2 linked regions of the Homo sapiens genome follow. The protein of the gene in region 2 purifies or fractionates together with the protein of the main gene of each other region. This does not show direct contact. Each region holds a gene or a part of one and is shown on either strand. Other genes may lie near its edges.

Region 1 (3,303 bases), on a different chromosome or scaffold from region 2:
ACTTGCTTCAAGAAGGCTTAAATTTCTGAGAGTTGCAAATCAATGCTTACTTCATAAAATGGAAGCCATGCCTTAAACACTTTTAAGAATCAGGGGAAAACAGAAACCTATAAGGCGAGAATCATAGGGAATAAAAATGAAAGGGAAGTCTCATTTTAAACAAATTTTGCAGCCGTCTGAATTTGGTATCCACTCTCTCAAATGTCTTCAGTGGCCATCAATCAGGCTGCTAACAATGAATAACAAATTTCTCAACAAGAATATGAACATTTCTAATCTAAGTTAACAAATATAGATAGTCCTTGCAGGGTTTTAGATTTTCTCCCGTTAAAAACAAATGTTTCTTTAGAAAGTTTAGTTTGAAGAATAATTCTAAAATTCAAAGTGATTCACTAATTGTAATAAATGCCACCAAATCTGGTCATCACCATTCTATTAGGTTACTGAAATGAAAACATGAATTTTATAAACTTCCCTAAAAATGTGATTCCTTCCTTCCCTTTTTTTTTTTTTTTTTTTACTCAGGAACAAAGGACATACAAATGATCACAACATAAGTACCTCTTAATATTTAATTAATTTCATCATGTAGCTATACACACAGTAAAAATTAAAGCCATGTATATTATTTAAAAATCTAAAGTGTTTAAATAATTCTACCAGTTGTTTTATCACTGGACAAGAAATGTATTAGGTTTGATATTTACAAAGATGTTTATGTTGTCTGCTATTTTCTATTATAGGTTTATTCAAAGAGAATATCACCTATAGCATAAATAATTAAATTTTTCAATAAAAACAAACTAAAAAAACCCTAGAAACATTTGACATCACCAAATTCAACAGCTCTCACTAGAAATCCAAGCAATAAACTTAGATATTTGAAATAAACATAAATTATGATTATATAACTCTAAGTCACATACATAATTTTGAATTATAGTAATAGCACTGTAAACATGAATACAAAGGATTACAGTTTTATACAGAATTTTTTTTGTTTTTCTTCTTTTAGGCTTATTTCTCCTTGAAAGAACAGAATGATCTTTTAAAAAATAAGAGTTATATAGTAAATCCAGAAAAAAATTCAAATAGCTGTGAAACTAGATTTTCCTATAAATGATCTTGAATTTAGTTTACAATCAAGTATTTATAGTATTAAAAACCCAAAATCATCACATAGAACTTGATATGTCTGTTTTCAAATGTGTCTTAAGTCTCTCCATTGAAGTGTGAATTAAGATGCCGAAGGAAATCCCCCCTGGATGTAATGGATGGTGGGAAAACTGCTTGACAGAATTCACATACTCGAGGTATATGCAGTTCTGAGTCTGTGCCACTTAGTACCACCGAGTCACTGTCTTGATTAGGAAAGGGCTTCCAAATGGGCTGCAGGAAACAAACAAAAATATCTGTTACTTATGTTTAAATTCAAATAGCACTGGACTTCAAATTTGAATTTCTGAATGAGTTACGCATGGGCATATATATTGAATTCCCTAATATAAAAGCAAATTACTTTTCCGTAAAGTTAGCATGACATGACTCAATTCGTGGTTTCATAAAGGGCACAACTAAACTTTGATTAAAAGTCACTTGGGACACACACAGTCATGCATTTTATCTTTATATATTTAAAAAGATTGCAGCTTTAGCATGCAATTTTTAATACTCGATCACAACAGCAGTAGTTTTGGAACAATAGCTAATACTCTGGTCTTTTAAATTAAATTCTATCTTTTGTTTTTTACAATAAAAACCTTAAATTATAGGGGCTTTATTAATTACATAGTACACAAGACATGATGTGTGTGTGCATTGCGTCTTAATCAAAATCAATTTCACTACTGTTTATAAGCAAATACAGTGAATACATCATACATGAATCAGCATTATTTTGATTTTTAAAAAGAAAATTTTCCTTTTAAACTACTGAACAAATTTCACTGATGTTATCTTTTGTTTTTAAAAACACAAATATTTAATCATTCAACAAAATCTAACACATGCAGTGTTTTGACTTCTTACTTTGCTTCTGTTATATAATAGGTAGTTTGGCCTTACTCATTCTTGTGGCTGAATAAAGTGAAACTCGTCAATAGTTGCCTGGTTAAAGAATTATGGAAAGTCATAATCTAACAGAACCACCTCCACTATAACCAGCACATAAATACCCTTTCATAACTGCATTTATTCTTTTTTTTAAATTTCTAGAAGGACAAGAAATAGCATTTAGCTTAATAATAGCTACACAATAGATGTCTGTTAACTGGAAAATATTTTCCTGAATTGTGTAAACCAAATTATTTTTTAAAATTTCTTATGTGGACACAGGTAAATTCCTCTGACACAGCTAAATTCTGATATTTTAAGAAGAATCATCTCATAAAGTCAAATTTAAAGAGACCCCTTATCCTCCTATTACTAATATGTTTTTAAAGTCACACATCCTAGTCTAGCACCTGACAAGTGTTACTGTTATTTCCCCTAACTTCTTTCATTCTGGTTAACCAATCATTTACATAAACAGTATATTACTAATGGAAGCACTTGGATTTCACGACATCACTGTCTTCTTATGAACAGTTTACTGGACAGCTGTGTACAATTGGTGTAAATATACAACGTCTGTCTAGGCACCCAGACACATTCAAATATCAGTATGGAGGACTTATAATAATGCTGACTCAATTCCTTTCATAAGAAATGTCAATTTTATTACAAAAATAGTAATATTTAAAATAAATGTTATAAAATTTAGGGTAAAATAACTCTCTGGAAAAACTTCTTTGATAAAAGTAGTAAAAATTGTGAGCATACAAACAAAAATCTAGTTAGAGTTAACTTGATTCTAATTTTAATGTTTTCAGTTTAAACAAAAAAGTACAAATCACTGTAATGGGAAATTGATATGGCCAAAAATAAAAGATTATTAAAGATAATTCTTATTTATATAAAATAGTAAGAAATTAAATCAGAAGCAATTTAGCTTCTAAATTTGGTAAGCCAATCTTCTACTCCCAATTTACCTATTAAATCCATATTCATTTTTCTCTATTAAGAACTTTTAGTTCAGATTTGATCTCTTCATAGAATTTAGTTGGGATCCCACTCACTGACTCAGCAAAGTAAAAAAGAAAATCACATAGAACAATAATAATCTGATATACTTTAGTCTTGGTTATGATAGCTGAATATATAAAATAGATGTTTAGTAGTAATGATTGATAGAAAGTAAAATTTTGAAATATGTAGCCAAAAATTTCACTTGTCTTTGCTACTATCTACAAACAACTCAGGATT
Region 2 (3,500 bases):
TTTAAGAGATGGTGTCTCACTCTGTCACCTAGGCTGGAGTGCAGTGGCGTGATCAGGACGCACTGAAACCACAACTTCCCAAGTAGCTGGGACCCAGGTGCACAACACCAAGCCCAGCTAGATTTGATTTTTTTTTTTTTTTTTTTTTTTTTTAAGAGATAAGGTCTGCCTATGTTGCCCAGGCTGGTCTCAAACTCCTGGGCTCAAGCAGTCCTCCTGCCTTGGCCCCACAAAGTTATGGGATTACACACCTGAGCACTGTGCCTGGCAAGACCTGTCTTAATAGATTAGAGAACCACTGATAGATGGTCAGCTTTCTGTAGCAGTGAGAACCCTACATTTCAAATGTGGATAGCACCTTTGCGGGGAAACATCACTTGGCACATCTGCATTCTTTTTTGACACAGGGTCTCACTCTGTTGCCCAGGCTAGAGTGCATGGCACGATCTTAGCTCACTGCAACCTCCACCTCCCAAGTTCAAGCGATTCTTCTGCCTCAGCCTCCTGAGCAGCTGGGATCACAGACATGCGCTACCATGCCCAGCTAATTTTTTGTATTTTTTGTTTGTTTGTTTTTGTTTTTAAGTAGAGACGGGCTTTCACCACGTTGGCCAGGCAGGTCTCGAACTCCTGACCTCAGGTGATCCACCCACATCTGCGTTCCAATATCTTTCTCAACATAATGATAGCCGTAATTAATATTTTCCAGTACATTTTTATGCCTTTACACACGAGAGTGGTAGACAGACACAAACCCAGATCTGTCTGACTCCAAAGCCCGTTTGTCATCATTCCTTTTACGGTATCCTATAGTGGTATCCTTTACAGAAGACAGCTTTTACCCAACAAAGACTTAACTTCCCAGGATGCCAGAGGACAAAGCGGGATTGCTTTTAAGAGGAAGTTATCAAGACCTTATTTTATAAATGAGATTAGATAGGGAAAGGCAATTTAATCTTTATTAAAAACTGAAAAGGCCAGCATAGGAAGAGGTCCTCGGTGGTCTTTTTCAGGGAAATACTTCAGTTGCTTTTATTAGAAACAGATAGTACCTAAGGTTTTGAGGTAGGTACAGCTTAAGGCATGCTAATGGTCATGGGTCCTTCCATAGTCATTTTTGTATTTTGGTTTACATTTGAGCAATAGGCAGCCCTTCACTGCTGCTGGACTCATTCCTGCCACTATTACAGGTGACAGAGGAGACAGGAGGTATGTCTTTTCTATTTTTATACATGCTTTATATTTAACACAAGCTCTTGGGTATCTTAGATAAACAGAAGTTGCCTAGCACTCCTTTTAGTGCATTGAACCCTTTAACATTTAAGCAAAATAATAAACAGTCTTTTGAGGTTCCTTAACAATGAAACGTGTTCGAGTGGCAGCAGCGGAATCCATGCCTCTTCTCCTGGAGTGTGCAAGAGTCCGTGGTCCTGAGTATCTCACACAGATGTGGCATTTTATGTGTGATGCTCTAATTAAGGCCATTGGTACAGAACCAGATTCAGACGTCCTCTCAGAAATAATGCATTCTTTTGCAAAGGTGAATATTTTTCTCTTAAAAAATATGTATAAGGTTGTATGTTCATTTATTAGTCTTGCTAAAAGTAAAAAAAAAAAATTTGAGACAGGGTATTGCTCTGTCACCCAGGCTGGAGTGCAGTGGCGCAATCGCAGCTCACTGCAACCTCCACCTCCTGGGTTCAAGCAATTCTCATGCCTCATCCTTCCAAGTAGTTGGGATTATAGGCATGCACCACCACACCTGGCTACTTTTTGTATTTTTAGTAGATGTTCCTCAGGTCTCAAACTCCTGGCCTCAGGTGATCCACCTCGGCCTCCCAGAGTGCTGGGATTGCAGATGTAAGGCAGCTAAATAAATTTTTATATGCTATAGTGTATGATTTGTTAAAAAATAAAAATGTTAAATTTTTTGTTTTAATATTTTGGTATTATTATGTTTGTTTTAAAGAGGGTAAATTTGCCTTGGAAGGGCAGTATAGGTAGAGGGAATGATATGGGCAGCAGCATGGAAGCATGCATTCTTTGGAAAAAGAGAAGAAATTCTGAATACTCTAGTATTTTAGTCTTGCACTTAATAATCCAACTATAGAAGCTTGGGTATCATCTCCAGTTTCTGTTCTTTACACTTTCCTCAATTCTTCTCTTTTTTTTTTTTTTCATTGCCCCATCTCTTTTTCATGCCATTGAAATAGCCTCACTTGGGCTACTCCAGATGTCTCCTTTCTTTTCCTCTCAGTTCATTCTCCTTTCCTCAAGCACTGCCTTCCTCTTCATTGAGTCACTTCCTTTCTCATACAGTGTCACTCCCATTTTGCACAACTCTAGTTTGCTCCAATCTTGATTGAAGATTTACAGTTTCTCAGCATCTTTATATGTCCTTATTTACACTCCTGTAATTCAGAATTGCTTCTGATTTTCCAAAGACAGCATGCTTCCATACCTTTGCCTATATTTTATTTCTTCTACCTCTAATGCCCTTCCTTCAGTGTTCTTGTATGTTGTGTGTACGGAGTATGGATATAGCAATTGTGTTCCTTAGGAGCTGGTTGTGTGTGTGTGTGTGTGTGTGTGTGTGTTTTCCATCTTTGAATCCTCAGTACCAAGCATGATGCCTGGCACCTAGGTATGCTCAGTAGTGTTCAAAAGAAAATATTTTTTTCTAACTCCAATCTCTAAAATGCTGTCATTCTAACAAATACAAGCTAAGCATATGTAAATAATCTTCCAGGATACTGAACTGTGTTCATTTTTCCATATGATTCTTAGTGGAGTTTAACTTTGGACTCCAAACACCCCAAATCTTATGGATTGCTTTCTTTCCTCAACCTCATTAGTGCATTGAAGTAATGGGAGATGGATGCCTTAATAATGAACACTTTGAAGAACTGGGAGGTATATTGAAAGCAAAGCTTGAAGAACATTTTAAAAATCAAGAATTACGACAAGGTAAGTTTTCCATGCTTTTATTTCTGAATATAATCCTTGACCATCTTGGCAATCATTTAAAACATTTATTTGGGTGTGTTTTAGTTAAAAGACAAGATGAAGACTATGATGAACAGGTCGAAGAGTCACTACAAGATGAGGTAAGTTATTCCCTTTGGAACTTACTTACGTGACCACTTGCATCTGAAAGACTTGTAAATGCCTCAATTTCTGATTTATGTGACTTGTCATTCTGATGTAATTATCAGTCTTTAGCAGAGGAGTCAGATATATTTCCTCTCTTAATTTATGAATAAGTAATTTGAAATTAAACTGATATGTCTTTCGGTGCTATGTGCATTTTGTTGTAATACCTCACTCAACAAAACACCTTGAGGTTTACCTAGTTCATTTACATACTGCTCACAACAACCATTTGTATTTTGTGGTGCTTTCACTATATTAAAGATGAGTAACCTAAAATTCCAGTGTTAAATGATTGCCTAGAGTCACACTGTTGACGGTCTGGGGCCTTTTTCACCATGTTACTTAGT

The links.
Region 1: the proteins of IPO5 (region 2) and TANK purify together in Homo sapiens (tandem affinity purification; one large-scale study listed by IntAct). This does not show direct contact.

Annotation. Positions count from the first base shown.
Region 1 is NC_000002.12:161,233,428-161,236,730, reverse strand, and holds the end of TANK (TRAF family member-associated NF-kappa-B activator), read right to left. Parts: intron 1,390-3,303; coding exon 1,213-1,389; 3' UTR 501-1,212; downstream 1-500.
Region 2 is NC_000013.11:98,012,675-98,016,174, forward strand, and holds part of IPO5 (importin-5), read left to right. Parts: intron 1-1,367; coding exon 1,368-1,540; intron 1,541-2,855; coding exon 2,856-2,967; intron 2,968-3,051; coding exon 3,052-3,107; intron 3,108-3,500. UniProt on the Homo sapiens protein: Functions in nuclear protein import as nuclear transport receptor. Serves as receptor for nuclear localization signals (NLS) in cargo substrates.